Regions from separate parts of the Homo sapiens genome. Here region 2 is linked to region 1. The links come from fine-mapping of genetic effects on gene expression. A gene starts in region 1. The other region holds a variant in brackets. All regions are shown on one strand. Distances are from middle to middle.

Region 1 (16,124 bases):
ATCTCTTGAAACTGGGAGGCAGAGGTTGCAGTTAGCCGAGATCGTGCCACTACACTCCAGCCTGTGTGACAGAGCGAGACTGTCGCAAAAAATAAAATAAAATCAATTGTGACTGGGCTTGGTGGCTTATGCTTGTAATCCCAGCACTGTGGGAGGCTGAGGTAGGAGGATTGCTTGAGCCTGGGAGGTTGAGGCTGCAGTGAGGTGTGGTTGCACCAGTGCACTCCAACCTGGGTGACAGAGCAAGACCCTGTCTCAAAATAATAATAATAATAATTGTGTCTTTAGCAGGATTGTGTCCTTCCAGTGGGGGGTGGGGGGGCAGGGAGAGATCATATTTTCTTTTCAGTAAGGATATAGAGTGAACTGTCTCTTAAAATCCTTATTTGTTCGGCCGGGTGCGGTGGCTCACGCCTGTAATCCCAGCACTTTGGGAGGCTGAGGCAGGCAGATCATGAGGTCAGGAGATCGATACCACCCTGGCTAACACAGAGAAACTCCGTCTCTACTAAAAATACAAAAATTAGCCAGGCGTGGCGGCGTGTGCCTGTAGTCCCAGCTGCTGGGGAGGCTGAGGCAGGAGAATGGCGTGAACCCGGGAGGCGGAGCTTGCAGTGAGCCGAGATTGCGCCACTGCCCTCCAGCCTGGGAGACAGAGCCAGATTCCATTTCAAAAAAAAAAAAAAAAATCCTTATTTGTTCTTAGGAGATCCATGTACGGGTTTTTTTTTTTTTTAATTTATTTATTTTTTGAGATGGAGTCTCGCTCTGTTGCCCAGGCTGGAGTGCAATGGCGCAATCTTGGCTCACTGCAACCGCTGCCTCCCAGATTCAAGTGATTCTCCTGTCTCAGCCTCCCAAGTAGCTGGGACTATAGGCGCATGCCACCACGCCCAGATAATTTTTGTATTTTTACTAGAGACGGGGTTTTACCATGTTGCCCAGGCTGGTCTCGAACTCCTGAGCTCAGGCATTCGCCTGCCTGGGCCTCCCAAAGTGTTAGGATTACAGGAGTGAGCCACTGTGCCTGGCCTCCCCATCTTTTAACTATATCTATATATCCCGAGTTTTTGTGCTGCATTCTGTGTGAATTAACTTATTCTTTTGTTAGTCATACCAAACTTAGAGTTCTTTTTATTATTTTGTTTCTCTTAATACCAAACAAATCAGGCAAGGAATTTCTTTACTTGTTTTTGGCGAGATCTTTGTCACTCTCTCTCCAAACCTGCTCCAACAATTAACAAGTATCAGTGATCTGATTATCTCTCTAGTTTTCTCATTTATTTCCTGAAGAATGTTCTCCTTTTCATCCCTGAGAGGTCTGAGAAAAAAAAAGAAAAAAAGAAGAATTTCTCTCTGGAAAGTCTCCTCTCTTCCCTCCAAGACGTAATACATTTTATTTGTTTGTTTGTTTGTTTGTTTATTTGAGACAGAGTCTCACTCTGTCGCCCAGGCTGGAGGGCAGTGGCACGATCTTGGCTCACTGCAACCTCCGCCTCCCGGGTTCAAGTGATTCTACTGCCTCAGCCTCCTGAGTAGCTGAGATTACAGGCGCGTGCCATCACGCCTGGCTAATATTTGTATTTTTAGTAGAGATGGGGTTTCTCCATGTTGGCCAGGCTGGTCTCGAACTTCTGACCTCAAGTGATTCGCCCGCCTCGGCCTCCCAAAGCGCTGGGATTACAGGCGTGAGCCACCGCGCCTAGACAATAAATTTTATTTTTTAAAAAAGATTAAATTTCAAACTGCAAAACTGGAGGTAAGGCAAAAGAAAGGAAACCCACACCCAGGTTCGAAATTTTCAACTATTATTGCTAAAAAGTGAGACATCTTCACAAAACTTGGAGTGGAAAACCATAGGTTTTATGGTCCAAGTTCCTGACTTCCAATACTGGAGAGTCTTCACTGGACTTTTCTTCACTTCCTTAACTGCTTGTTGAATTCCTATTTATCATTTAGAACGCAGCTCAGACAGATCAACTTTGTTCTTTGGGAAACCGTATGTATTAGTTTCCTATGACTGTTGTAACGCATTACCATAAACTTGGTGATATAAAGTGCCACACGTTTATTATTTTACAATTCCAGAGGACAGATATCTGAAATTAGTTTCGCTGGTATAAAGTTAAGGTGTTGGCAGCACTAGTGCCTTCTGGGGGATCTAGGGGAGAATCTGTTTCCTTGCCTTTTCTTTTTTTGAGACGGAGTCTCACTCTGTTGCCCAGACTGAGTGCAGTGGCGTGCGATCTCGGCTCACTGTAACCTCTGCCTCCCAGGTTCAAGCGATTCTCCTGCCTCAGCTGCCCAAGTAGCTGGGATTACAGGTGCCCACCCAGCTAAGTTTCGTATTTTTAGTAGAGACGGGGTTTCACCATATTGGTCAGACTGGTTTTGAACTCCTGACCTCAGGTGATCCACCCACCTCGGCCTCCCAAAGTGCTAGGACTACAGGCATGAGCCACCGCATCCGGCTCCTTGCCTTTTCTAGCTTCTAGAGGCTGCCTGTATTCGTTGCCATCACTCCACCCTGCTTCTGTGGTCATATTTCCTTTTCTGTATTCATACCCTCCCTCTGCCTTCCTCTTACATGGATACTTGTGATCACATTTAGAGCCAACCCTGATAATCCAGGGTAATCTCCTGGATTATCAAAAATTTTAATTTAAGTCCCAGTGCAGTGGCTCATGCCTGTAATTTTGTAAAAATACAAAAATTAGCCGGGCATGCTGGCGGGTGCCCGTAATCCCAGCTACTCGGGAGGCTGAGGCAGAAGAATTGCTTGAACCTGGGAGGAGGAGGTTGCAGTGAGCCAAGATCATGCCACTGCACTCCAGCCTGGGTGACAGAACAAGACTCCATCTCAACAACAACAACAAAACAACAACAACACGGCCAGGCGAGGTGGCTAACACCTGTAATCCCAGCACTTTGGGAGGCCGACAGGGGTGGATCCCTTGAGGCCAGAAGTTCGAGGCCAGCCTGGCCAACATGGCGAAACCCAGTCTCTACTGAAAATACAAAAATTAGCCGGGCATTGTGGCACGCACCTGTAGTCGAAGCTACTCAGGAGGCTGAGGCACAAGAATAGCTTGAACTGGGAGGCAGAGGTTGCAGTGAGCCGAGATTGGGCCACTGCACTTCAGCCTGGGCAACAGGGCGAGACTGTCTCAAAAACAAACAAAAAAAAGGGCAAAATAAATAATACATGAATTTGATTTGAACATAATTGAACACAATTGTGGAAATCAAATAATCTCAGCTGAATTAAGATTTAATTGGGCTATGTTTGTCTTTTTATTTCTCAGTGGCCCTATTTATGTATTTGTTTATCTTAGAAGTTGACTCAGTTCCTTATGATAGGACTTACAGGTATACAGCCAAATAATGTTCCCATTTAATAACTTTTAAAATGAAGCTCAGAGGCCTAAGGTATGAGGCAATGCCCCAAGGCATCATTCCAAGACAAGGATAAGGTGTGAGCTAGGGTTATGGTTACTATCCTTCAGCCTAATGACAGGCTATCTGTATCAGAATCACCTGGAAAAATTCTTAGCCATGCAGAAACTCAAGTCTCCCTGACCCCAAGAATCATATTCAGCTGATCCAGGGAGGGTCCTGGAGATGTGTGTTTTAAAACACCTCAGCTAATTCACAATTATCAAGAAATCTAGGCTTCTCTTATTTAGTTTGAAATCATACAGAAATGTAAATGCAATTTTTATTTGGCCTTCAGTTTGAAAAAAGGCTCTTTTGGAAGAAAGGATCCACACCACATCCCTAGAGAAATGATTAGATTGAAGGCATGGCTTGCAAGCCTCACATTGAGAAAAAAAAAAACAAAACTTAGAGCAGAAACCCAATAGGTTTTCCAATTGCCCTGATCTGTGGGAACTAAGACCTTCAAAGATTCTAGACAGTTTTATTGGAGTATGGGTGCGGCAACTCAAACCTGTAATCCTAGCACTTTTGGGAGGCTGAGGTGGAAGGATTGCCTGAGCCCAGGAGTTTGAGGCTGGAATGAGCTATGATCACACCACTGCACTTCAGCCTGGGCAACAGAGCAAGACCCTGTCTCTAAAGAAAAAAACAAACAAACCTCACTCATTGTGAATTTAATGACTTTCAGTAAATTTACAGAGTTCTGCAACTGGCATGTCACAATGCAAGTTATAGTCCACATGGGAAATTAGGTTAGCAGGTCACCAGGGAAGCTCAGACTTAGAACAAATAGAAATGAGTAGTCTCAAAAATAGACAAGTGAGATTGCATCAAACAACAACAACAATGGAAACTATCGACAGAGCGAAGAGACAGACTATGGAATGGGAGAATATATTTGCAAACTATGCATCTGATAAGGGCTAATGTTAATATCCAAAATATATAAGAAACTCAAACAACTCAATAGCAAGAAAAACAGGCTGGGCACGGTGGCTCATGCCTGTAATCCCAGCACTTTGAGAGACCAAGGTGGGTGGATCACCTGAGGTCAGGAGTTCCAGACCAGCCTGGCCAACATGGTGAAACTCTGTCTGTACTAAAAATACAAAAAATATGGCTGGGCGCAGTGGCTCAGGCCTGTAATCACAGCACTTTGGGAGGCTGAGGTGGGAGGATCACCTGAGGTTGGGAGTTTGAGACCAGCCTGACCAACATGGAGAAACCCTGTCTCTACTAAAAATACAAAAATTAGCCTGGTGTGACCGGGCGCAGTGGCTCACGCCTGTAATCCCAGCACTTTGGGAGGCCAAGGTGGGCGGGTCACCTGAGGTCAGGAGTTTCAGATCAGCCTGACCAACAAGGTGAAAACCTGTCTCTACAAAAAATACAAAATTACCCAGGCGTGGTGGCAGGTGCCTGTAATCCCAGCCACTTGGGAGGCTGAGGCAGCAGAACTGCTTGAACCCGGTAGGCGGAGGTTGCAGTGCAGTGAGCCAAGACTGCACCATTGCACTCTGGCCTGGGCAACAGGGGTGAAACTCTGTCTCAAAAAAAAAAAAAAAAAAAAAAAAAAAAAGGCCGGGGGGCAAAGTACCTGAATAGACATTTCTCAAAAGAAGATATACAAATGGCTAACGGGTATATGAAAAAAGTACTCTAATAATCAGGGAAATGCAAATCAAAATCACAGTAAGATATCACCTCACACCTGTTAGAATGGCTGTTATAAAAAAAGACAAAATATAACAAGTATTGGTGAGGATGTGGGGAAAAGAGAAAAGAGAACCCTTCTCGTACACTATTGGTGGGAATGTAAATTGGTACTACCATTAGGGACAACAGTATGGAGAATCCTCAAAAATAAATAAATAAAAAATTTAAAAGGCTAAGAACATCTTAAATTTGAATAGATATTGCCAAGTTGCTTTTCAAAAATATACCACCCAGAGTATGTTAGGGTTCCTCTTCCCCTGCATCCTTACCAACACTGAGTAATACCAATATTTGTTTATTTATTTATTTATTTATTTATTTATTTATTTTGAGACAGACTCTTGCTCTGTCACCCAGGCTGGAGGGCAATGGTGCGATCTCAGCTCACTGCAACCTCCGCCTCCCAGGTTCACTGGGTTTAAGTGATTCTCCTGCCTCAGCCTCCCGAGTAGCTGGTACTACAGGCGTGTGCCACCACACCCAGGTAATTTTTGTATTTTTAGTAGAGACAGGGTTTCACTGTGTTAGCCAGGATGGTCTCAATCTCCTGACCTCGTGATCTGCCTGCCTCGGCCTCCCAAAGTGCTGGGATTACAGTCATGAGTCACCATGCCTGGCCCAAGTAACATCAATCTTTTTAATTTTGATGATACATTAATTAAAAAAAGATATCCTGTTTTAATTTGCACTTATTTAATTATAGGTGAAGCTAAACATCTTTTCCTATGTTTATTGCCCAGTTGTATTTCCTCTTCAATTTCTTGCCTATTCAAGTTTTTTTGTTTATTTCTTTACTGAGTTGATCATTTTTTTTCTTTCTGGCTTGTAAGGGCTCTTTGTACATCAGAAAAATTCTATTGTCTTCCCAATCTCCTACAATGTTAATTTCATCCTCTCGCTACTGGAATTTTACTCTCAATTTATTATAAGTTTCTACTGCAAAGCTCTTTTTTATTCTTAATTCTCCATGATCACTTCAGCATTCGGGATTACTGAACAGCTCTTTCTTAAAATTTTCTACTCACTTCCTTTTCATAATACTGATTTATTTCATTTCTCTCTGTTTCTTAAATTAAGAAAAATTATCTTAATTTTTCTCCTCTATCTTTACTTTCTATTCCTCTTCCTATTAACGTACCCAAAGTTATATCCATTGTTCTCTCTATACCAGAGTTTCTTGCTCTGTTACAGAGGCTGGAGTGTAGTGGCACAATCACGGCTCACCACAACCTTGACCTCCTAGGCTAAAGCGATCCTCCTGCCTCAACCTACTAAGTAGCTGGAACTATAGGGGCATGCCACCATGCCTGGCTAATTACAAAAAAAAATTCTTTTTTTTTTTTTTTTGAGACGGTCTCACTCTGTCACCCAGGCTGGAGTGCAGTGGCGCAATCTCAGCTCACCGCAACCTCCACCTCCAGGGTTGACGCCATTCTCCTGCCTCAGCCTCCTGAGTAGCTGGGACTACAGGTGCCCGCCACCACGCCCAGCTAATTTTTTTGGTTTTAGTAGAGACAGGTTTTCACTGTATTAGCCAGGATGGTCTCGATCTCCTGATCTCGTGATCTTTCCGCCTCGGCCTCCCAAAGTGCTGGGATTACAGGTGTGAGCCACCGCACCCGGCCAAAAAAATTCTTTTATAGAGACAGGGTCGCACTATGTTGCCCGGGCTGGTCTCAAACTCCTGGGTTCAAGTGATCATTCCACCTTGGCCTCCCAAAGTACTGGGATTACAGGCATGAACCACCGTGGCCAGGTGCCTTTTTTTAAAAATTTTTTTGAGACAGTCTCGCTCTGTCACCCAGGCTGGAGTGCAGTGGCCCAATCTCGGCTCACTGCAAGCTCCACCTCCTGGGTTCACGCCATTCTCCTGCCTCAGCCTCCCGAGTAGCTGGGATTACAGGCGTGTGCCACCATGCCCCATCTCTACTAAAAATACAGCCAGGGATGGTGGCACATGCTTGTAATCCCAGCTACTCAGGAGGCTGAGGTAGTAGAGTCGCCTGAACCTGGGAGGCAGAGGTTGCAATGAGCCAAGATTGTGCCACTGAACTCTAGCCTGGGTAACAGAGTGAGACTCCATCTCACAAAAAAAAAAAAAAAAAAAAAAAAAAAAAAAGATATATGTAGCTAAATGCTCATTGCTGCTTTATTTATAATAATAAATGATGAATGTTATCCCAATGTCCACAGGTAGTTACTAATTAAATGCTGGCATATTTGGACAGTGGAATATTCTGCTGGTTAAAAATTAACCAGTAAAGGGTCGGGCACGGTGGTTCACACCTGTAATCCTAGCACTTTGGTAGGCCAAGGCGGGCGGATTGCCCGAGTTCAGAAGTTCAAGACCAGCCTCGGCAACATGGTAAAACTCTCTCTCTACTAAAAATATAAAAATTAGTCGGGCATGGTGGCACATGCCTGTAGTCCCAGCTACTTGGGAGGCTGAGGCACGAGAATCGCTTGAACCTGGGAGGTGGAGGTGGCAGTTAGCCGAGACTGAGTCACCACACTCCAGCCTGGGTGACGGAGTGAGATTCCTGTCTTAAAAAAAAAAAAGGCTGGGTGCAGTGGCTCACACCTGTAATCCCAGCACTTTGGGAGGCCGAGGCAGGCGGATCACGAGGTCAGGAGTTCAAGACCAGCCTGGCCGACATGGTGAAACCCCATCTCTACTAAAAATACAAAAATTAGCTGGGCATGGTGGTGCGTGCCTGTAATCCCAGCTACTAGGGAGGCTGAGGCAGGAGAATCGCTTGAACCCAGGAGGCGGAGGTTGCAGTGAGCCACGACTGCGCCACTGCACTCCAGCCTGGCGACAGAGCAAGACTCCATCTCAAAAACAAAACAAAACAAAACAAAAAGACAACAACAAAAAAAAACCCAAGTAAAGTAAAAAATTAAAGTAGTGGTTAAAAAATTAAAGTAGGGCCATGTGCATTGCCATAGAAAAAAGTGAAAAAGGTTATGTAGTATAAACTTGTTTTCATTTAAAATTATATACACATATGTGAATATATACTTAGAAAAATAAAAATAAAAGGTCAGGCGCGGTGGCTCATGTCTGTAATCCCAGCACTTTGGGAGGCCAAGGTGGGCAGATCACGAGGTCAGAAGATCGAGACCATCCTGGCTAACACGGTGAAACCTCGTCTCTACTAAATATACAAAAAATTAGCCAGGCATGGTGGCACACGCCTGTAGTCCCAGCTATTCGGGAGGCTGAGGCCAGGAGAATCTCTTGAACTTGGGAGGTGGAGGTTGCAGTGAGCCAAGATCGTGCCACTGCACTCCAGCCTGGGCAATGGAGCGAGACTCCACCTCAAAAAAAAAAAAATACACCAAAGTCTTAATTATCGGGGGAAGTAGGATTATAAGAGATTTCACTTTCTACAGAAATTGTTAATATTCATATTACTGTTGTCAGCATTGTTGTCATAAAGCAATTAAAAGTGCCTAACACATAGAAGCTACTATATAAATATTACATTATACTAAAATAGTTTTGGGAATATTTTTGCGTTGTTTTTTGGCAATGAGCATGAATTATTTTTATAAGCAGGAAAAAATAAATACATGAGGTGGTGAAAATGCAGGTAGTATTTGATCATTTTAAATGTAATGAAGGGTTAAAAATGAGAGCTAGAGGATGCCAAAGGGTCCTCCATGCATACTTGAAAGGACCTAGTTGAAAGCGGAAGGTTGATAATGATAAAGCCCCAGGCAGAAGAGAATGGGAAACTCTAATGATAACATGAACTGATATTTAATGAATGTTTACCCTGGGCCAGGTGTTCCAATTGCTTTTGAGCCCACAGGAAGGAAAGGTTAATCTTTTCCTTTGAGATTAGAACCAAGAAATTATTTTATTTATTTATTTATTTATTTTTTAGGTGGAGTCTTGCTCTTGTCGCCCAGGCTGGAGTACAGTGGCCTGATCTCAGCTAACAGCAACCTCTGCCTCCCGGGTTCAAGTGATTCTCCTGCCTCAGCCTCCTGAGTAGCTGGGATTACAGGCGCCCACAAGCACGCCTGACTAATTTTTGTATTTTTAGTAGAGACGAGGTTTCACCATGCTGGCCAGGCTGGTTTTGAACTCCTGACCTCAAATGATCCGCCCGCCTCAGTCTCCCAAAGTGCTGGTATTACAGGCATGAGCCATCGCGCCCAGCCCAGAGCAAAGATTCTTAACCTCAGTTTCCTGAAATTATATCCTAAATTTGTTGGGTAAGTGCATTTTTTAAAGTACAAGAGAAGGCCCATAAGTTACATCAGATTTTAAAAAGGGTGTTTGAGCCCCCCTCTTCCAAAGATAGAAGAATCAAGGAAGAAAGGGTAAAACATACATACATATATATATATATATATATATATATATATATATATATATATATTTTTTTTTTTTTTTTTTTTTTTTTTTTTTTGAGACGGATTCTCACACTCTGTTGCCCAGGCTGGAGCGTAGTCGTGCAGTCTTGGCCTACTGCAACCTCTGCCTCCTGGGCTCAAGTGATCTTCCCGCCTCAGCCTCCCAAGCAGCTTGAGAGAACAGACATGTGCTACCTCGCCCGGCTAATTTTTGTATTTTTAGTAGAGACGGAGTTTTACTACATTGAGCAGGCTGGTCTCGAACTCCTGACCTCAAGTGATCCGCCCACCTCGGCCTCCCAAAGTGCTGGGCGTGAGCCACCGCGCCCGGCCGAAAGATTGGTTTTAAAAACGAGTATTTTGAGATGATGAGAAAACGAGAGGGTTTCTGCCAGTTGTCCTTTCTCCCAGTGAAACAGGATTAGAGATTCTCTTTAATGACAGTAAAATTTGGTGATTGTGACATTTCCAAGTTCTGTTGATTGATTCATCATCTTCCCTCCATCATACACGTCTAAGGGCAGAGTGAACTTCCATCCTGAAGGCTCCGCGCTTAGTTTTCGCAGATTAATAGCTCACCAAGAATTTATCATCTTTTCTTTCCACTAACTCGAAACCAATCTAAATTCTTTCCAAACATCTTCTCAACGTAGTCTCCTTTGATGAAATTTACTGTTTCGGATTCTAGACTTGGCTCTTACCAACTTAACTTTCGGTTAATAGCTTAATACCTCTGATTCAGGTTTTTGCATTTGTCAACTACCATTGAATGATAATTTCAATGAGTTCGTTCTTATGAGGATCAAATGAAATAACATCTGTGAAAACCTCTTACAAAGTTTAAGCAAATAGTGCTAAGCAATCACCAAGCGTTAACTACTAATTTTCAGTGTTAGGTAAATTTTAAAAGCTTTCCGGAGAATTGGCGTCCTGCACACCAGTCTCGTTCCAAAATAATGCAGGCGGGGGCTGGGGTGGGGGCGCTCCTCTCGGACTGAGGCTATGTCTTTCGCTCCTTTTGTCTTTTCCAGGCATTAGAACTGTCATGGCGCCTTCAAGAAGAGGTAGGAGGCCCTCTCTGCGTCCAGCAGAACCATCTGGGGCACCTGGACCGGGCGGTGGGGTGGACAGAGAGACGAGCCCCAGCTGGGACCGAAAACATCGACCCCTCCGAGAGGTCTCGGCCGGACCGGCGCAAGGGGAGGAGAGCGGGTGGAAGCCCACCCCAGCGAACGCCCGAGGGCCGGGCCCCGCCCACCCAGAACGTCACCCAATGGAAACCTGCCGGCGGTGCGGCACCGCCCATCGTTGGTCCGGGCGCCGCGAGGGCGGGGCCCGCAGTTCGGTTGCGCTGCGGAGCGCAGCTGTGAGGGAGTCGCTGTGATCCGGGGCCCCGGAACCCGAGCTGGAGCTGAAGCGCAGGCTGCGGGGCGCGGAGTCGGGAGGTGAGCGCCCAGGGAAAAGAGGGCCCGGGAGGGAGGGGTTCGCGAGAGGACGGAAGGATCGGCCTCCGAGGCCCGGGACGGTGGGACCCGCCAGTCGGGTGCTGAAGGCGGCCCTGCTCACTCAGTAGCCCAGGCCCGATCGGGCCCTGCCTGCTGGAGCCGAGGGGCCGCTTCGGCCCCGCAGTCGCTGCTTAGCCCTCCCTGGCGTCTCTGGCTTGGCGGCGGCGCCCCGGGATTCTGCGGGCGCGGGTCGGGAGGCCCTGGCGTTCGCTTGGAACTCCGGCTGCGAGAGGCGGGGCCCGGCGGGTGGGGGCGGGGGCGGGGGCGGCGGTCGCGGCCCGGCGGCCTGCGGAAGCTCGGCGGCCTGGCCTGGCCTGCTCGCGGGGAGGTGCGCAGACTGCGCGGGGGCGTGGCCTGCGCCCCTGACTGCGCTGTCGGTCCGGCCTTTGATGAGGTGGCCGCCGCTGGCTCCCTGGGCCCCAGCCTGGTTCCCGCGCGGGCCGCGGCTGCCTTCCAGACGCAGGGCATGCGACCTGTTGGAGTGTGAAATTCTAGGGGCCGGGTTCCTCCCCAGAGCGGTTTTATTTCCGACTGGACTGTGCTGCGGGTCTCAGAGGCCCTCTGGTCCGTTCAGGGTGAGGACAGCTGAGAGGCCTGGGCCCGTGAGCTCTTGCAGAGGAGTTGACACGCAGAGGGGCTGCTGTCCAATAAACGAAAGTGTCGGGGAAAAACTTTGCAGGGCGATCTGCATTACTCCAAAGTGAACACACTGCATGTCTCAGGGTGGCTGGAGGCGGCGAGAATCCCCTTATGGGAGTATATGAGCTTTTCCATGTGTTATCTCTTTAAAACCTCTCAGCGGCTCCGAGACAAAACTCCCAGTGTCGCAGAGGTTTCTTCATCAATAGGAGTAGTGCTGGAGAATCTTGGGCACTGCCCTCATTTTGCCTGCGAAGGAAAAATTAGGAAGGGATAAAAAGTCACAAAAATTAGGAAGGTGGGGGGGATAAGCAAATTCCAAGGGCATCTATCTCTGATGAAGGGTTGGTGTCTCCTGTGGTGCCCTACTGTGGATTAGTTATTTGTGTCCTCGGTCCAGAAGTTTCTCTGGAGCCCATTGGCTACAGCTTTCCTGTATTAGAATTCTACTGTTATTTCCTACTGTAGTCTGGCTGGGAATTTTATTTAGTTGTTCAGATTTTAGATGCATTCAGTGAATGCAGCTGCTCAAGGAAGTAACTAATAGTGTCTTACCATTTTCTTAGCTACTTTTCAGAAGAAGGAACATGATCTCTAACAGAAGTTTTCTGGTAGATTACTAAAACAGGCAGATAGTAGCTTTCCTGGCTGGCTGAGTTAAATCCCTCTCCAGCGATCCTCCCACTTCAGCCTCCTAAGTAGCTGGGATTACAGGCATGAGCCAGCGCGCCTGGCAAATCTCTCTAGAATAAGTCAGGATCTAGAAAATAACATAGGGAAAGAATATCTTGCCAGATTTCCTCTGTACTGCCTATTGCTCTTTGGTATTTACTAGACTGTCTTCTAATAAAAATCTCCTGAGTTGAGTTAAACGTAGTGTAGATTGGGGGCAGAGATGGGCACAAATGGGCATCAGAGAGTTCTAAAAATAAATGTGGGCTTTTCAAAAGATTGGTGTGTTGACTGGAGACTTCTGAACTTAGAGGAGCACATTTAGTTTCCAGGGTATCAGTTTCTTTTTCTTTTCTTTCTTTTTTTCTTTTTTTTTTTTTTTTTGAGTCATAGTCTCACTCTGTCACCCAGGCTGGAGTGCAGTGGCGCCATCTGGGCTCACTGCAACCTCCGCCTCCTGAGTTCAAGTGATTCTCGTGCTTCAGCCTCTTGAATAAGCTGGAATTATAGACGTGCGCCACCACACCCTGCTAATTTTTGTATATTTTTGTATTTTTTTGTTGCCCAGGCTGGTCTCGAACTCTTGAGCTCAAGCAATCTGCCTGCCACCATCTCCCAAAGTGCTGGGATTACAGGCGTGGGCCAGCTTGCCTGGCCCAGGGTATCTCTTTCATACTGTAGAGAACTCTCTTGAGCTGAGCACACACAGGTTCCAACTCCTTCACAGTCTTTATTCTTAGAGATATGAAATAACATTAAGTGGTTGTCTTGTGACTTTTTGTACAAGTTAATGGCATTTAGCTCTCAATAATTCTTTTTCTTCAAGTACCCATGACCCTGAAAATGTTATGCTGTATAATACTTTTTCCTATAAAAGTTGTACCTTGAGTTATTTATACTTGTAAGAAATAACCTAGGCTGGGTGTGGTGGCTCACGCCTGTAATCCCAGCACTTTGGGAGGCTGAGGCGGGCGGATCATGAAGTCAGGAGATTGAAACCATCCTGGCTAACACGGTGAAACCCCATCTCTACTAAAAATACAAAAAATTAGCTGGGTGTGGTGGCACGTGCCCGTAGTCCCAGCTACTCGGGAGGCTGAGGCAGGAGAATCGCTTGAACCTGGGAGGCGGAGGTTGCAGTGAGCCGAGATTGCACCACGGCACTCCAGCCTGGGTGACAGAGTGAGACTCCATCCCCTCTGCCAAAAAATAAATAACCTATATCAGATCTAGTCCCCCAGAGAATGGAAACTTCAGAGCCTTTGAGCAATGTGAATGAAATGAAAGCTGGAAGCTTAAAGTCTTAGCTCTGGCTTGAATTTGTGGCTGCTTGAATGTGGGCATTTATTTTGTTTGTTATTGTATCTCAAGGACTTAGCCCAGTGCTTGGCCCACAATAAATGCTTAATAAAACATCTGTTAAATGAGTGAATGAAAAAAAAAATGTTGTTAACCAATACCCATTTGTCACACTCACATCACAGGAAAGGTGAGGTCATCAGGGATGAAGTCACTAACAACTGCCAGTCATGTGCCCCAAGGGTAGCCTCACCATGGACTAGTGGGCTTGTTCTGTGTAGAGAAGGGATGGATAGTGAATGCCAAGGTTAGTTCTAGCTGGATAAATTAGCCAAGGGTTTCAGCTGGATAAGTTGGCTGAGGGTGCTACAGGTCTAGCCTTAAGGCTGTCTCACTGAAACATTTTGGAGTCTGGAGTCATCTGTTCTGAATAGCGCCCACATAGTTTATATTTTTTTATTTTTTGAGACAGAGTCTCACTCTGTTGCCCAAGCTGGAGTGCAGTGGCACGATCTCAGCTCACTGCAACCTCTGCCTCCCGGGTTCAAGTGATTCTCCTGCCTCAGCCTCCTGAGTAGCTGGGACTACAGGTGCGTGCCACCACACCCAGCTAATTTTTTTATTTTTAGTAGAGACAGGGTTTTGCCATGTTGGTCAGGCTGGTCTCGAACTCCTGACCTCAGGTAATCCACCTACCTCGGCCTCCCAAAGTGTTGGGATTAAAGGCGTGAGCCACTGTGCCCGTCCACACATAGCTTAATTCTTGAGCACAGTAAAAATAGGGTGTACTTGGGGATTCAAAGGGAAGCCTATTGGATGAGTATTTGCCAAGAAGGAATGGAGCACCTGATTTTGCTGGTGATTTGAACCTTACTCTAAGTGGGATTAGACTGCCATAAATCTTGTGTTTGTCATTCCTGGGAGGGTCATCTTCAACTAAGATAGCTCCCCTTTTCTAGACTAGAGTTAGGAGAATAGTTAATGTTTCAGTATTTAGGACTGATTCTGATTTTGGATTTAAAGGAAACAAAGGTGGTGTGTGTTTTCTATTTTTAATTTTTAAAAGTTTTGTGTAGAGACTGGGGTCTTTTTATGTTGTCCAGGCTGGTCTCAAATGCCTGGCCTGTTTTATTTTCTTTTGAATTTGCAGATAAGTATTAGGATTATTAAATCTTTTTTTTTGTTTGTTTGTTTTTTGTTGAGACAGGGTCTCCCTCTGTTGCCTAGCCAATGGCATGATCATAGCTCACTGCAGCCTCAAACTCCTGGGCAATCAAGTGATTCTCCCATCAGCCTCTCGGGTAGCTGGGACTATAGCTGTGTACCACCTTGCCCTGCTAATTTTTAAATTTTTTTGTAAAGATGGGGTCTCACTTTGTTGCCCAGGCTGGTCTCAAACACCTGGCCTCAAATGAACCTCTTGCCTCGGCTTCTCAAAGTGCTGGGATTACAGAGGTGAGCCACTGTGCTCAGCTGGATTACTAAATTTTTTTTTGAGATGGGGTCTTGCTCTGTCACCCAGGCTGGAGTGCAGTGGCGTGATCTCAGCTCACTGCAACCTCCACCTCCCTGGTTCAAAAAAATTCTCCTGCCTTAGTCTCCTGAGTAGCTAGGACTACAGGCACGCGTCACCACACCCAGCTAATTTTGTATTTTTAGTAGAGATGGGGTTTCACCATGTTGATCAGGCTGGTCTTGAACTCCTGACCTCAGGTGATCTGCCCACCTCAGCCTCCCAAAGTGCTGGGATTACAGGCATGAGCCACCACGTCCAGCCTGGATTACTAAATCTTTACAGATGTATCCTGACTTTCTCTGCCTTTTCCCTCTGTATTTGCCCCAACCAGTGCAGGCCTGAGTGTTCCTTCCAGCATGTCGGAGGGGGAGTCCCAGACAGTACTTAGCAGTGGCTCAGACCCAAAGGTAGAATCCTCATCTTCAGCTCCTGGCCTGACATCAGTGTCACCTCCTGTGACCTCCACAACCTCAGCTGCTTCCCCAGAGGAAGAAGAAGAAAGTGAAGATGAGTCTGAGATTTTGGAAGAGTCGCCCTGTGGGCGCTGGCAGAAGAGGCGAGAAGAGGTAAGGTTATGGTACAGTTACTCTTGGGTGAGTGAATTCTGGAAAGGTGAGAACTGGAAGAGCAAAGTCTTAAAAGAGGCCAACCAAACTTCAATAGGTTGGGGGCTAGGAGGAGATGATCATATGGAGTGTTAAAATGGAGGATTTGTGAGATAAGTTTAATTCTCTTTCATATGAATTTCTTCTCAGGTGAATCAACGGAATGTACCAGGTATTGACAGTGCATACCTGGCCATGGATACAGAGGAAGGTGTAGAGGTTGTGTGGAATGAGGTACAGTTCTCTGAACGCAAGAACTACAAGCTGCAGGAGGTAGGTGATGCTGAAAAGGTGAAGCCTGGGGAATGTTGGAACACTGATGTTAGAGAGGAATTGGTGTTGGGAAGCTGCCCGTGAGGAGAGTAT
Region 2 (16,124 bases), 930 kb after region 1:
CTTCCTAGGTGCGTGAACTTGAACAAGCCAGTTGATCTCAGTTTCCTCCTCTGCAAAATGGAACTTCACCACGCGGTGCTGGCAGGAGGACTCCATGATGAGGGCACTGAGTTATAAGCATTGTAACACTTACACCAGTGCCTGGCACTCAGTGGTGCTCAGAAAAGCCTATCTTTATTATTATTGCCTTTTAGGTTTGGCACAAGTTGCTCCTGGTCCCTCTTCTCACTCCTTCCTTTCCATTCCATATCCCTGTCCTTAAGCGTTTAACTGACCGAAAACAACAAAATCTTTTTTGGCCTCTCCCATACGATAGTCCAGTCCTCTTGCTGGAGCCACTCCCACTTCGAGTGTCTCTGCCAGCTGTCCACCTCTATGAGCTCCCAGGCCCTCTGCCCAAGGCTATCCACCTGCCGCCTCCCCCTCCTCTCTTCCCACAGCTCCCCTGTAAGCCTGTGCTAAGCAGCGCGACCTGGGGGCCCTGACTCGTCACTTCTGTCAAGCTCCTAAATTCCCTTGTTTCCAGAGGTTTTGTCTATTAAGTTACTTTTTTAAATTTTTTTTTTTTTTTTTTTGAGACAGGGTCTCAGTCTGTCACCCAGGCTGGAGTGCAGTGGCACAATCTCAGTTCACAGCAGCCTCCATCTCCTGAGCTCGAATGATCCTCCCACCGCAACCTCCCAAGTAGCTGGGACTACAGGTGCGTACCACCATGCCTGGCTAATTTTTGTATTTTTATATAGACGGAGGTCTTGTCATGTTACCCAGGCTAGCCTTAAACTCCTCAGCTATGCGATTCTCACACCTCGGCCTCCCAAAGTGCTGGGATTACAGGCATGAGCCACCATCCTTGGCCAAGTTACATTTATTAAATAATAATTTATTTCCCCGCTTTTAACCAATAACTCATGTACTTGCCTTCTAAGGATTCCAGTGGGCACTAAGGACCAGTTACCCCACAGAGTGGGCATGTTTTCTAAGGATTCCAGTGGGCACTAAGGACCAGTTACCCCACGGAGTGGGCATGTTTTCTAAGGATTCCAGTGGGCACTAAGGACCAGTTACCCCACGGAGTGGGCATGTTTTCTAAGGATTCCAGTGGGCACTAAGGACCAGTTACCCCACAGAGTGGGCATGTTTTCTGTCAAATCTAGAACACAGGATTAGCCAGGGGGTTCTCCTGTCTGGAAAACATACAATAAACATTAGACTTCTTTCAAGTCTTGACTGCCAGGCACAGCCCCATTGCTGATCTGCTGCAGGCCAGCCCCTGCACTGCGGGCTGTCCGTGATCTATCTGGAGAATCAGGATAAACACAGAGTGTGACCATCCACAGCTGTCGGCTGAAAGATGAGATGCTCCCTCTCCAGTACCCGTCCGTCCCCTGGAGCAGTGCCTGCTTGCTCACATGTGAGCCGCCCTGACAGGCAGCCCAAAGCCAGAAGCAGGGTTTCCAGGGCTGGAGAGGGTATTGTCTTCTGTGGTCCAGAGGCCCTGAGGAGTGTCCCACACCCAGGGTGGGGTGGCCAGGCCTGCAGAGGCTGCAGGAAGAGGTGTTGGGTCATCCTGGAGCCAAAAGGCCTTGACCAAGATGGGCCTAGTGTGACCAGGACACAGGTGAGCAGACAAGTCTGGGCTCTGACAGGTCAGGACGGGCAAAGCATTGATGTAAAATGGAATGGAAAAGCAGCACTGGGCCAGGCAGCCATTCATCCATTCCACACACATCGGCTAAGCTCTTTCTGTGTGCCAGCAGTGGGTACTCTTCGGGGAGCAACAGAACTTGCATCCCATTTATGCACTTGACAGACATCTGTCGAGCATCCTCTCTGTTCCTGGCACTGGGACTGTATGGATAAGCCTAGCCCTGCGCCTGAAAGGCCAGGAAGCTGGGGCTAGTGCACACCCCTGCCACTGATGGGAGAGGCTGGGGTAAGCCACATAACAGAGCTGCAGATCCACACTGCTGGCGTTCAGCTGAAGCAAATCCTGGAGGGCTTCCTGGAGGAGGGGCCAGCTGGGCATGGTTTTAGACTCTTGGTTTCTTTGCTTCATTGTGGTGGTTCGGTTTCTGGCGAACTCTCCCATGGGGCTGAGGTGCACACAAGGTCTGGTTCTCATGCATGCAGTCATGTTGAGCAACTACTCTGTGCCAGGCACCATTCTATAGCAGTATAGCAGTAAATACAGCACCACAACCCCTGCCCTCATGGGGTTTCCATTCCCATCAGGGGAGAGGGGGTATGAACAAGATATACAGAGGGAATGTTAGGAGCCAAGCACAGGGAAGAGAAAGCAGGGAGGGGTGGGAGTGCATTTTTAGCCAGAGAGGCAGGGCTGGCCTGGCTGAGGAGGTGACGTCTGAGCCAAGGCCTGGAAGAGGCAAGTGAAAGCGGTAGTCCCCAGCTCTCCTCCCGAAGCCTGCCCCAGGCCCCAGCCCCGGGGCGTTGCCTTGGGTCCCTCCAGAACCTGCCCAGCGGAGCTTGTCCCTGCATCCAGAACGTCTGAGGTGACAGGCAAGGAGCAGTGGGGGTTAAGGAGATCGCGGTGAGCTGAGTCCTGGCTGGCCGTCCCTGACCACACTGACGGTGGCTTCCCTGACCTAGACCTCCTCATCTGTAAAATACCAAGCCTGTTTCACAGGCTGGTGCTAAGAACAAGGCAGATACGGTGAGGGGAGGCTTTGGGGACAGTAAAAGGTCATGGCCACGTGAAAACGTAAGCAGGTTGCCACTGCCACCACCTAACACACTGCCCCCGCTGCTGCCAGGTCAGGTTAGGGGCCTGGTGGAGGTGCCCTGAGGAGGTGGTGACAATACCACGAACTGCAAAGGAAACGGGAGTGACGCCCATCCTGCCTGCCCTCCCCGGCCTCAGCCAGCCTCTGGGACCTGCCCTGGCACCCACCCACTAGACAGAGGGGAGAGTGGGGAGGAGGTGCCCCGTGCCAGGCTGCCTTCCCCTTTCACTCAGCCCCAGAGAATCCAGCTGCCTGAAGCAGGCGAACAGGGCCCCCGGAGTGCCTGAGAAGGGCCAGCCATGTTCTGCCCAAAAGCTCTGCCACCCGGGGCCTGGGTCAACAGAGGTGGGTGTGACCTGGAAGGTGGGCTCCCAGGCAGGTATCACAGCGGGCAGCAGGCTTCCAACCCGCCCATGCCACTGCCAGCAAAACGGCTAGCACGAGAGACTTTTCCTCTGTTTTTTTTTTGTTTTTTGTTTGTTTGTTTGTCTGTTTTGAGATGGAGTCTTTCTCTGTTGCCCAGGCTAAAGAGCAGTGGTGCAATCTCGGCTCACTGCAACCTCCGCCTCCCGGATTCAAGTGATTCTCTCACCTCAGCCTCCAGAGTAGCTGGGATTATAGGCACCCACCACCACACTCGGCTAATTTTTTGTATTTTTAGTAGAGATGGGGTTTCACCATGTTGGCCAGGCTGGTCTAGAACTCCTGACCTCAGGTGATCCACCCATCTCGGCCTCCCAAAGTGCTGGGATTACAGGCGTGAGCCACCGCACCTGAACTTTTCCTCTTATGAAAGGAGCAGACACCAGAAACGACGCAGGCTCCCTCCTCCAGACAGAACCACGCTCAGCGTGTAGGTATTTAACAGCGTTCAACAAATATTTTGTACTTATTTATTCTGAGGCAGGAAATGATATCCCAGCTGAGGTCTGAGGACTAAAGGGGTTTCCTTCCAGTCTTTTTCCTATTCATTGTTAACATGCTTAAAAACAATGGAAAACAATTGCGGATCTTGTTTCGTTTTTCTATTTTGTTTCCCGAGTGTTTACCATCTTGCCATCTTTGGTGAACCCATCTCATATTTCTCCATAGTTCACTTACCCCTTTCCGTTATTTTTTAGCCATTTGAATTATTTCTTGATTTTTCCCTATTATATATCTATCCCATAAATAATCACTTGTACCTTTCTGTAGGAAACGCACCTGGGTCAGAGTCACCTAAGATTGGTCAGCAAACAACAGGGAGAAACGAACGTGGTGATGGCGTCAGTTCATGCCTCAAAGACTGCAGAGCTGGGGGAAAGAAGTGAATGTGCTGGAATATTCTGGCAGCTCAGTGGAGGAAGGGCCGAGGTGGGTGCCTTCCGTGAGACAGTGAGAAGCGTGTTGAGCCTCCAGGCTGCGAGGCTGCACCTAGAGTGGGAGTGAGGAGAAGAGAGGCCATGGTTGAAAGAGTTGGCTTCTGAAGGCCTTCCCAGCCGAGCTGAGGTGACCAGGTGGCTGCAGGAGGACACAGCAGAGGAGGGACAGGACAAGGCTGTCCGTGGGAGTCCCTGTGCCAGTGTCCAGCCCACCTTCCTCGCTGATGCCATGAGCTGTGGACATGGCGGAGGTGACTGTCCTCTGCCCGTACCAAGGACTGACCCCTGGGCAAGTCTTGAGGTGGACTCACCGGCCTCCAAAGTCGTGCCCACCCCCTGCATCACCTCAGCCAGCCCAGAAAGCCCCCAGAGGGAGGGGAGTGTTTTCCTGAGTAGCTCAGACCCGGGACAGGTGCCCATGTTGGGTTTCCAGGGCTGAGCAGTCCCAGGCCACCAGATAGTCCCAAGTCTGATCCCAACACCCATACTGGGCCTGAGCTTCCTCCACTTCCTCCTCCTCTTCCTCCTCCTCTTCCTCCATGAGGAGGCTCAGAGCCACCCTGGCTGCCTGATAGGCTGACGGGAGCAGGGGAGGGAGGCTTTGAGTTTGGTCTGTCTTTTCTTCCAGGGGCTCAAAGCACTTTATAAGTATTAATTTCCTTCATCCACCTCAGCTGTTGTCCTGTTTGCTCTTTATATTTCATTATGAGCTGAGGTGTTGTGTTTAATCCTCAGGCATTCAGCAAGAGGGAATTCCGCAAGCCAGACGCAGCGGAGGCGGAGGACGCAATCCCCGCCAGCTCCTGGGACCCAAGGGCCGGGTCCCTCCCGGGCTTGTGCCCAGCTTGTCCTCTCCCATCCCTGCCTCTGGCCCGGTATTTGCTCCCAGCATCCTCAGCGGCCGGCAGGGAAGGCGTCCCTGGGAGGCCACCGTGGAGTTGTAGTGGACCCAGAGGCAGTGAGGTCTGCGGAGGAGAGCACTCAACAGGTAGGTAGGCGACCTGGGCCCCACCACGCACTGCAGTGTGACCCCAAGCAGCTCACTTCACTCCGAGTCCTGGTTTTAATAAAACATAGGACAGCGGGGATGAGACTCTTATTAATATCACATCACAGCCTGTGGAAGGGCTTTATAAATGCTAAAGCTCTGTGCTAATGTTCAGGGCACTGTACCCCTCTCCATAGGATGAGGGGTGGGTGAGATAAAATGACCCCATGGGGACATCCAGCCCAGACTTGTCACTCTGACTCGGATTCTAAGATGAAACGAGCTCATTCCCTCCTCCCACACAGCCCTGGGCCTACACCCCTTGGCCCAAGTGACCAGAGTGGAGGGCTGGGGAGGGAGATGGGTCAGGAGGTATAGCTCGGGGAGCCACAGATGTCCTGACCTGAAGGAGCTCCTTTCAGAGCTATGTGATGGGCCAGCTACGTTACCCGTGACCGCTCAGACGCAGGTGGGCCTTCAGAGTGTCCACACCGGTGAGGGTGATGTCAGCCCACCAGGGCCCGTCGGCCTGCAGGGCCGCCCTGTTAGGCTGTGTGGTTTGCCGATGTGGTACTGCCTGCCCAGAGGAAGGGATGCCTTTTGTTGCATACAAGGTTTCCATCTACAGGGCCAAGTCTTACCCAGTGGTTGCTGAGCCTGCAGGGAGGGGCTGCCCTCTTCCCAGCAGGCTTACCTGCCCCCTCTGGCAGGAGGGACCACCCCTTTTTCCTAAACACATAATTACAATAACAATACAGTCCCCAATCCCTTGTCCACAATTCCAAACTCCCAACGCTCTGAAAATCCAAAGCCTTTTTCTTTTCTTTTTTTTTTTTTGAGATGGAGTCTCGCACTGTCGCCCAGGCTGGAGTGCAGTGGCACAATCTCGAATCACTGCAACCTCTGCCTCCCGGGTTCAAGCGATTCTCCTGCCTCAGCCTCCTGAGTAGCTGGGATTACAGGTGCCCGCCACCACGCCTGGCTAATTTGGTGTATTTTTAGTAGAGACAGGGTTTCACTACGTTGGTCAGGCTGGTCTCAAACTCCTGACCTCGTGATCCGCCCGCCTCGGCCTTCCAAAGTGCTGGGATTACTGGCGTGAGCCACCGTGCCCGGCTGGCTTTTCCATACCTTATTTAGCAAAACCTAGCCTAACCTAAGTCCTTTTTTTCTCTCACTTTGAGTAAAGATTCACATTTCAATGAGGAAACCGTAATGTGTTTGAGCATGGGGTGTTTCCCCAGATCTCACTGGGTTATACATGACATTGGAATATGCATATTACCTTTTTAAAACTCCAGAAGCAGACATTCTGAAACACATACGACCATGGGTTTCCGCTAAGAAATAGATCTGTAACAACCAGCACTGAGTATACAGGCTTCCACATATCCCCAGCACTGTGCTGTGTACTCACAGGCACCAGTTCATGTAATCCCAGCAACTCAACTTATTTCATGTTATAGCTGAAGCCCAGGGAGGTTAAGTAGCCTTGCCAAAGTCACACAGTTAACTCAGGGGTGGTGCCAGATTTGAACTCCGGCAGTTTGGCTCCCTGTTACTAACCCTAGGCTGTACAGATGAGGAAACTGAGGCCCAGAAAGCAGAAACTTGCTCAAGATCCTCTGATGGGTAACGGTTGGAGCTGGGCCGGAGTCCTTGAGCCCCAAGCCTTACCTGCTCCTGTCTGTTGGGGACCAGTTGGGGGTGGTGAGGCCACCAGCAGCAGCCCAGGAACTCACAGCCTCCTCAGGCTGAGTTTGTCCAGCCCATCCGGGAGGAGCTTAAAATAGAAGAAGTTCCCATGGAAAAGTTTTAAGACTTCACTGGATTGAAACCAGATGACCCTGTGCAAACAGACCCCACCAGCAGGCACAGGGTCTGGGCGTGAGCTGTGCTCCCTACGGCTGTTCCCAGCCTGCCCTGGGGAGGGAAACTGCCCTGGGGGTGCAGACAGGCCAGCAGGGAAGAGAGCCCAGGGACAGGGGACACCAGAGCGGCAGGCCTTTGCTGTTGGGAAGGGGTGGGAGACGTCTTCCCCAAGGCAGAGAAGTGTCCCCAACACTTTCACTGGCTCCATCTGTTTCCCAGCTTCTGAAGATGGACAGAGAACTTGGAGACAGCATTCACCCATTCTCCCACCCTGCCAATCGTCTCCCTGTTCCCCCACTTATTCTTGCCTTTACTTGCACGCCACAGTCATACGGCAAACACAGCACCTCCTTGACACGGAGGGCTATGTGTGAACCACTAGGGACACAAGAATGCAGCAGACACTGTCCTGCCCTTTGGAAACTCCCAGAC[A/C]CACTGAGCAGTCGTCACAGCAGGATGGTGGGGGGTAGGGGTAGGCTGGGGACACCTGAATAACCCTGGCCGGTCAGCGGGAGCTGCACAGACGAGGTTTGGAGCAGGACCCAGAAGGGAGGGAGAAGAAGGGGTGTTCTGGGCCAGCGGTCAGGCCTGGTCACGCCAGCTGGCTGGCACACAGGGTGCGCGGAGAAGGGCAAACAGAAAAAGGGGCTGGAGGGAGGTGCGGACCCCATTAGAGGGCCTCATCGCCCCATTGAGTTTCTCCTGGGAAGGCTGGGGAGGCAGGAGATTTTATGTCTTCCTGGACTCCAGGTTGGTGGAGGAAGAAGACTCTTCTCCGTGCAGCGGCCAGTGGTAGTGACCTGAGCACTCCTCTGGGGCAGGGCCTGTCCCTGTCGCCTATTCAGCCCAGCCTCTGGCACATGGCTAAGCACCATAGGAATAGATTGCTCAATCTCCCCATGCCTAGAAACCAAGTCCCTGCTGCTCCTAGAAGGATGAGACCACCAGGGAAGTGGGAACCTGAACTGGGTTTTTTTTTTTTTTTGGAGGGGGTGCGGGGGGGACAGGGTCTCACTCTGTTGCCCAGAATGGAGTGCAGTGGCATGACCTCAGCTCACCGCAACCTCGCCTCCTGGGTTCAAGTGATTCTCTTGCCTCAGCCTCCTGGGATTACAGGCTCGCACCATTATCACCCGGCTAATTTTTGTATTTTTAGTAGAGATGGGGTTTCACCATGTTAGCTAGGCTGGTCTTGAACTCCTGACCTCAAATGATCCACCCGCCTAGGCCTCCCAAAGTGCTGGGATTACAGGTGTGAGCCACCACGCCTGGCCTGAACTGGGTTTTATATGATATTAAGAAATTGTTGTACCATGGAATACTATGCAGCCATAAAAAGAATGAAATCATGTCCTTTGCAACAATATAGATAGAGCTAGAGGCCATAATCCCAAGCAACCTAATGCAAGAACAGAAAACCAAATACCACGTTCTCACTTATAAGTGGGAGCTAAATGTTAAATACACATGATCATAAAGATGGGAACAGTAGACACTGGGGATCACTGGACTGGGAAGGGAGGGAGGGGGGTGTGGGCTGAAGAATCACCTGTTGGGTACTATGCTTACGGTCTGGGCGACAGGGTCCCTGGGACCCCAAGCCTCAGTGTCATGCAATTTGCCCATGTAACAAATCTGCAGGTGTACCCTTTATAATAAAAATTGATTTTTTTTTTTTTCTGAGATGGAGTCTTGCTCTGTCACCCAGGCTGGAGTGCAGTGGCATGATCTCAGCTCACTGCAACTTCCACCTCTTGAGTTCAAGCAATTTTCCTGCCTCAGCCTCCCGAGTAGCTGGGATTACAGGCACGCGCCACCACGCCCAGCTAATTTTTGTGTATATATATATATTTAGTAGAGATGGGTTTTCACTATGTTGGCCAGGCTGGTCTCGAACTCCTGACCTCCAGTGATCCACACCCCCTCAGCCTCCCAAAGTGCTGGGATTCAGGTGTGAGCCACCGCGCATGGCCAAAAGTTGAAATTTTTTTAAAAAGAAATTGTTAACTTTATTAACATTTGCTAAGACTTGGCATTATAGTTATGTTAAAAAAAAAAACGAATCCCTCATTCTGTTGGACATAAAAACTAAAGTATTTATGGATAAAATAATATAGTGTCTGGCACTGTTATAAAATACCAAAATTTTTTTAAGTTAGCTAAGAAGTAAAGAAGGGCCAGTTGTGGTGGCTTACACCTGTAATCCCAGCATTTTGGGAGGCCGAGGCAGGAGGATTACTTGGGTTCAGGAATTCAAGACCAGCCAGGGCAACATATGGAGACCTCATCTCTACAAAAAATAAAAAAATTAGCCAAGCGTGGAGGCACACATCTTTAGTCCCAGTTACTCGGGAGGCTGAAGTGGGAGGATCGCTTGAGCCCAGAAGGTCAAGGTGGCAGTGAGCCATGATCATGCCACTGCACTCCAGCCTGGGCAACAGAGTGAGACTCTGTCTCAAAAAGAAAAAAGAAATAAAAAAGGTAAGATGACAATGAGCCTTGAAGCTGAGTGATGGGCTCTCAGGGCCATGATAGTCCCTTCTTCTTTTGTGTGTTTCAAGTTTTCATGGTTTTAGTTACAAGTGGAGACAGGAACACATGAGTTCCCAGAGCACCAAACTTGCAGGGTGGTTGGAGCAGAGAGGATGAGACCTCACTCGTTCCCACCTTGGAAGTCAATGGGATCAGGGATCCCTTGGAAGTTGAGGGATGAGAGCACGGGCCCAGGGGGCATCAGCCCGTGGCAAGTCGCTCAGCAGGTTGGGAGCCTCAGGCTTCCAGCTCAGGCCATGGCGCCCCAGGTTGTGCAAGACAGAACTCCCCACTGTCTAATCCTCACATCCAGTCACCGGTCCTGTTTATTCTCACCCCAAAATCTCTCTCAGATCCACCTACCTTGCCCCATTCCCTCTGCCCACACCCCCCTCCTTCAAGCTGCCATCATCTCTTGCCCTGCCCACTCCAGTAGCCCTGGCTGGAGGCCAGGCCACCCTTTTGTCCCCATCAGTTCTCCTTGCACTACCCACTCTGCATTAGTCCGTCCCAGGCCCTCATTTACAGGCGGGAACACTTAAAAATGGACACTTGGCTGGTTGCGAGCTTGGTGCTCGGGAGCTGATGAGAGGCACAGACCAGGCCCCCTTCTCGGACTCCCAGGCTGGGACATTGAAGCAGAGAGCTGTGTCTACGGATGGGTCTGCCTGGGCAACCAGCTCTCCAAGAGCAGAGCTTAAGCTGCAGTCCTGCCTGGATGCAGCAGACATGGCTGGCTGGCTGGCTTCCAGAAAGGTCAGGCTGGCTGTTGATGGCTGACCTCACCGTCCTGCCCAACTGGAGAGGTTACTGTGGCCACAGCTGCCACTGTAGATAAGGTTGCCTGGGGACTGCAGTAGCCCCATCTCTGGCTCCTGTGTCACTCAAGCTTGGCCTGTGAGTGGGCCCGGAGCAGGCCTCACCCAGCCCACTGAGGATGGCAATGGTGTCCTGGGGGCCTCGCATCTTCTAGGGTTCCAGAGCCGGGGATGGAACTGGGCTCTGGACAGCAGGATGGCAGGGAACAATGCCACCCACCCCCTCCAGAGCCTCCCAAATTAATGACCACAACAGGAGGGAGAGCAAGGAGAATTGTGAAGAACTGAGGAGGTGGTGGCTGGCCCAAGTCTGTATGATTGGAGAGGCATCCCTGTTGGTTCCTTCCATCTCCACACAGATGCTTAATGAAGAAAACGGCTTTTCGGTGCCTCCCAGCAGCCACACACAGCCTGGGCAGGCCCCACAGAGCAGCGAAGGCCCAGAGACTTGACTTTCCCAGGCCCCTCCCACCCAGAGCAGGGCCCACGAGGCAGCTTCTCAGTCACGAATCAGCCTGTGAGGCTGGCGCTGCGCCTGGGCCTCCTGCCAGGGGCGTGAGGAAGGGAGTGCTGGGTTCAGACACTGTCCCTGCCGCCTCTGGCTCAGGGCTCACTGCCTGTGGCCGTGCCTCTTCCCCACCTCCAAGTCACCTTGGGCCTGGCAGTCCAGCTCAGAGTCCTGTCCTGCCTTCACTCTGGAGCACCTAGCAGCCACTTCACTGAGGCTCAGCTCCTGAGGATGGAGGAGCAGAGGACAGGCTGCTGAGAGGAGAGGGTGGCTGGGGACTGGGGGCAGAGGGAGCTGCACAGGGCTCCGAGCAGGCAGCTGTGTCTACCTAGGAGTGACTCCTGGTGTCGATGGATGACTCGGGGATAGAGTCTGGGGTCTGGAGGCCCTGCAGCTGGCACAGCCTGTCCAGGAACAGTCTAGCTGAGCTCTGGGAGCCCAGGCCAAGGACAGAGCCGCCCTGCCTGGTTCCCTCCCAGGCTCTCCCAGAGACCACCCACGTGGGCCCTATCAGCTGGGATCATTCTCCAGCCCTCTGGCTCAACCCACAAACCCACTGGCTCCGAGCTGCCCAGGCCTCCCTCCCTGGAACGGCTAAGTCCCAACAGCTGACCCTGGCAGGCATCTGGGCCACAGGGAGAGATGGGAGAGAGTGGCTTCAAGTGGAGGAGGGTGGCACCACCCTGGATGGGCCTTTGACCCTGAGGACACAGACTTCTGAGTGGGGCCCAGGCCTGAACAGCGGGAAGGGAGGGTGGGCAGCAGACTATCACCTAGCACCAGCTTTGCTCTGGTCTGGCTTTGATCTCCCTCCCCAGGCCCTGGGCTCTGGCCCCATAGAACAGTTTGCTGCCCTCACACAGGCATCATGGCTCCTTCCCTTGAAACTGGGCTCAGGCCAGTCTGTGTCTTGGGAGTGCCCGTGCCTCCCCCTGCCAGTCTAGTTCCTGCCTGTCCTCAAGGTTCAGGCCCTTCACAGGGCCCTGGCTCCCAGCATCTCATGCTCTGCATGTGCACAGCACGTCTTTCTGGAAGGTGCATCCTTCTGCCTCAGGTCTGAGGCACAGTGCACGCTATGGACCACAGGTCCTACAGCCTGAGCATCCCAGAGTCCACTCCCAGCTCCGCCACTTCCTAGCTGGGCGATGATGGACAGGAAACTGAAGCTCAGTTGCTCATCTGTAGAATGGGAAAAATAATAGCCACTTCACAGGTTGTTTTTCTTATTGTTTTATTGGGCTTTTTTTTTTTTTTTTTTTTGAGATGGAGTCTCACTCTGTCACCCAGGCTGGAGTGCAGTGGCGCGATCTTGGCTCACTGCAACCTCCGCCTCCCAGGTTCAATCAATTCCCCTGCCTCAGCCTCCCAAGTAGCTGGGATTACAGGCACCTGCCACCATGCCCGGCTAATTTTTTGTAATTGAGTAGAGATAGAGTTTCACCATGTTGGCCAGGATGGTCTCGATCTCCTGACCTTGTGATCCAACTGACTCGGCCTCTCAAAGTGCTGGGATTACAGAGTGAGCCACCGTGCCCAGCTTTTTTTTTTTTTTTTTTTTTTTGAGACAGAGTTTTGCTCTTGGTGTGATCTCGGCTCACTGCAACCTCTGCCTTCCAGGTTCAAGTGATTCTCCTGCCTCATCTTCCAGAGTAGTTGGGATTACAGGCGCCCACCACCACACCCAGCTAATTTTTGTATTTTTAGTAGAGACAGGGTTTCACCATGTGGGCCAGGCTGGTTTCGAACTCCTGACCTCAAGTGATCCACCTGCCTTGGCCTCCCAAAGTGCTGAGATTACAGGCGTGAGCCACCGCACCCACCTCACAGGTTGTTTTTTAACAAGGATTAAAGTGGAAGAGGATTAAAATGAGACATCTGTGGGACCTGCTTAGGCTGGGGCTCAGGATGTGCAGTGATTATTCCGCACCGTGGTGATGGTGGCAGTGGTCATCGTTCCTATGGTGAGTCCTGAAAAGAGCGTTGATTTTCTGAAGACAGGAACATGTCTTCTGTCTCAGTCTTCTCTGCCCTCCCGCCCACTCCTACTCCCCCGCCCCGCCGACCCCGACCCCGCCCCAGTGCCCTGCAGAGGGAGCCTGCTGGGCATGGGTAGAGAGCCCATGAGAACCTGGTGCAGGTGGAAGGAAAGGGGACCCCACAGGGAAGGTAGAAGGGCCAGGGCTTTCCCCAGCAGTGGCCAGATCTGAACAGAGATGACTCTGTGTTGCTGTGGCCACTCCAGACCCCAGACCGCAGCCTGATATCCAAGCTCCCGAGGGAGCAGAATGCATCAGCCACCTCAGAGAGGAGGCGCAGCCCAGTCAGGGCCCCACGTTGTCACGGCTCCAGCTGTCCTCAGGAGGGAAACTGTCTTGCAAGCCTGGAGACTTCTGGTTGCTTCTCGGAGGAAAGGTAGCATCTCCCTTCCTTTCTGGGAAACAAACATTCCCGAGTACCAACTGCGTGCCAGGCCCATTGCTAGCTGCAATCTTAGGCGAGTCCCAAACCTCTCTGAGACTTGGGCCTGTCATCTGGAAACAGAGTAGTCTATAAAAGATTGACTTCAAAGGGCTGTGAGGACAGTCAAAGAGACCATAAAGCACAGAGCTTGGGCAGGGGTGGGCATTCAGGAGAGGTGGTGGCCCCTTCCCCTGTGCCTGCCCCTGGGAAACCCTGTCCCCTACCTGGCTGGCAGCACAGGAGACGTGGAGAAGGGACAACCCGGTCTGGGGACGGGGCGGTTTCTCCAGGCTGGGCTGCCACTGTCTTCCTTCCCTGTGTGGGTGGTGGCTCAGGGCCTGGTGGTCTGCCACAAAGGTCCAGAAGGTCCACCCTTTCTGGTGGCTGGGGGTGGCAGTCAGGGGCTTCAGGACAAGCCTCTGGCTGCTGTGGCCCCCTACCCTTCCTCTGCACCTTGGGAGCCCCAGCCCCTGGGCTGTCTGAGTCTATGCTAACAAAGTAGGAGCCAGAAACGTTCCTTTAGACACAGGTCACTGTGAGCCTTGGCTAAGCCTGGGGACCTCTTCTCGGCCCTGGCTACGGCCCAGATGCCCACCCTGAACCTTCCACGAGTCAGGGCAGGCACCATTTCCCCAGGACCAGCTGAGCAGTAAAGTCTCTTCTGGTTTATCTGGAGGAAGGAAAATGACGTCATGAGGTAAACCGCACAGCCTGAAACCACGAGGCTGGGCGCCCCAGTGATGTTTGCTTTTCAGCAAAAGTCACCATGCACACAGAGGGACAGGGAGCCCAGGCCATTGTGGTCAGAGGGTCAGGGGGAAGACAGAGGGAGATTTTTTAACACGGAACCACAAGGAAGGAGAGGCCCCCGGAGAGGACGGACGTCAGAGGCCAGAGGGCGGCTTCCTGGGGTGCTGTGAGAGACTTGTCACCTGCTGGGTGGGGCAGTCTCTGCTGGTGTCTCACGAGGTCTCGGGCTTGGCACCTGAGGCATGCAAAGTCACGTTTGCCATGGCGGGCACAATAATAGTGGCAAGAATAATAATATCGATAACGCATCCTGACCATGTGTCTCTGTAGCCCTGTCACCTCCTCACCACCGTCCCATAAGACGGGACCCTGCGAGGCAGACGCAGCCTGCACACAGAGGAGGGAGGGGAGGCTGCTGGGGCTCCGGCCTGTGCTTTCGCCTCCAGACCATGGAGCTTCTTCACCCACATGCTGGGTGCCGTCCAGCCTGAGGCCTGTGTGCAGGGTCCCGGTTTCAAGCCCCGATTCCCACCTGCTAACTGTGACCCAGGAAGCCCCACCCCCCGCAGCCCTCAGTTTCTTCACCTGCCAAACTCCCTGCCTTCGAGGTGAGAGATTACGTAAGTAAGGTAAAGCTTATTCTTCGATACCGTTCTCTTACTCTGTCAATGCTTTGAGCAGGGTTCCCTGGAGAAACTGGCCCCAAAGCGTGGGCCCAGACACTGGTCTTGATGGGCTGGCTGAGGCGGGAGCTCCGTCTCATGGGAGTGGATGGGAGTGGCAGGCAGGTGGGTGGCACCTTCTGTGGAGCGGGGGCCAGTCGGCAGCTTAAACGAGGGCAGAGAGAGCTGTCTAGGGAGGTCCAATGGGGCTTCACTTTTCTCAGGAATCTCAGGGTCTCCAAGCCCCCACTCTAGGGTGGCATGAGTTTGGGGGGTTCCTAAAGGAAGTCCCCTGTGTCTGGGTGTGCCTGGGTGGCAGTGTAGGGGCAGGTGTGGTGCCCACATTGTCCATATGTCCTCACCCGCCCCAGGCCCCAGGCCCTCTGCCTCAGGGTGGGGCCGCAGCTCAGCTTTGATGCCCCTGAGGGCCTGCCTGCCGGAACTGCTGTTTCAGGCAGGAGGTGGGAGGACGCAATGCAGGCGGGGTTGCCCAACCAAAACACCCTCAGCCCAATTCCTCCCACAGGCCTCCTGGAACCCGCATTTCTTCAGTGGAGTCACAGCTTTTTGGGCTATGGCTCCTCTTTTCAGTTCTTTTTCTTTATAACACAAAGACACCATGAGAGAGGCCGTACTTCACAATCCCCAAGTGTTAGAAGGCAGAGGGTCTTCCAGACAGCCACCACCAGGCCTGTGCTTTACAGAGGAGGAAGCTGAAAGGACTGGTCCAAGACCACACAGCGGGGAGCAGGTGGCAGCACGGACGCTCGAAGCTTGGTCTCTCGCTGTGGAGTTTTCTCTCGCCTGTCTCTACCGCTATCATCCTAATACTGAAGCATCAGGTCCTTTTTCAAGACACCACCAGCTACAAGCAGAGGGCAAGCCTGGGGCTGAGAAGCACTGTGGGGAGGAGGGGTGGAGCTGGGAGAGGGTCACGGGAGTCAGGGGCCAGGGAAAGCTGCCAAGCAGAGACAGCCTCTCCTGCCCCTTTCCCAGGGCTGACTCAGCACCTTACGCGTGAGGATTTGTCATCAACAACTGACCCCAAAAGCCATGGTGCCCTGGGGTTGGTGTCCCAGTGATGCTTTTCTGACTCGTGGCCCAGGATGACACAAAGCCCCAAGGGACAAGCCAGAGATCCCACTGGCCCAGCCAGATGCTCCAAGATTCCTTTTGCCTGTAACCCAGAACTGGCCCACCCTCTTGCCTGGTTACTGGGGCTTTCACGAAAGAGCAATGGACAGTGGGAAGGGCTCGCTGTGAGGCAGGATCAGTCCTGGGGCCCTGGGAGTGTCTCTTCCCTTCCCCGAGCCTCAGTGTTCTTGTCTGTACAATGGAAGTTCAGGTCAGATGGTCTCTGGATTCCTTCCCAGCTCTGAGAACCAGGTTCTACCTCAGCTGTTCTCAGAAAGGACAGGGTGGTCCGGGCTGG

Which allele goes with the higher level. Positions count from the first base shown, and alleles are read on the strand shown. Sizes are in standard deviations (SD) of each study's normalised expression.
For the expression in monocytes after Pam3CSK4 of the gene that starts at base 10,867 in region 1, allele A in region 2 goes with a higher level than allele C (moderate effect, 0.56 SD a copy in Quach 2016).

The links. PIP is the estimated chance that this variant, and not a neighbour inherited with it, causes the effect. A credible set is the group of variants that fine-mapping cannot tell apart.
Region 2: its variant is the best candidate, but not a certain one, in a credible set for the expression of NRBP1 in monocytes after Pam3CSK4 (Quach 2016, PIP 0.69).

The regions. Positions count from the first base shown.
Region 1 is chr2:27,417,765-27,433,888 of GRCh38, forward strand. NRBP1 (nuclear receptor binding protein 1) reads left to right here and starts at 10,867. Exons shown (of 18, transcript NM_013392.4): 1 at 10,867-10,967; 2 at 15,490-15,719; 3 at 15,909-16,031. The coding sequence starts at 15,510. RefSeq lists a silencer at 11,235-11,384 and an enhancer at 12,754-13,053.
Region 2 is chr2:28,345,429-28,361,552 of GRCh38, forward strand. It overlaps LOC105374381 (a long non-coding RNA gene), which reads left to right and starts at 3,471. Exons shown (of 3, transcript XR_939873.3): 1 at 3,471-3,594; 2 at 3,936-4,094; 3 at 4,838-8,660. It overlaps LOC105374382 (a long non-coding RNA gene), which reads left to right and starts at 12,949. Exons shown (of 3, transcript XR_007086256.1): 1 at 12,949-13,232; 2 at 14,361-16,124. RefSeq lists enhancers at 13,892-15,091, 15,490-16,124. The variant A/C (reference allele first, on the strand shown) is at 7,395.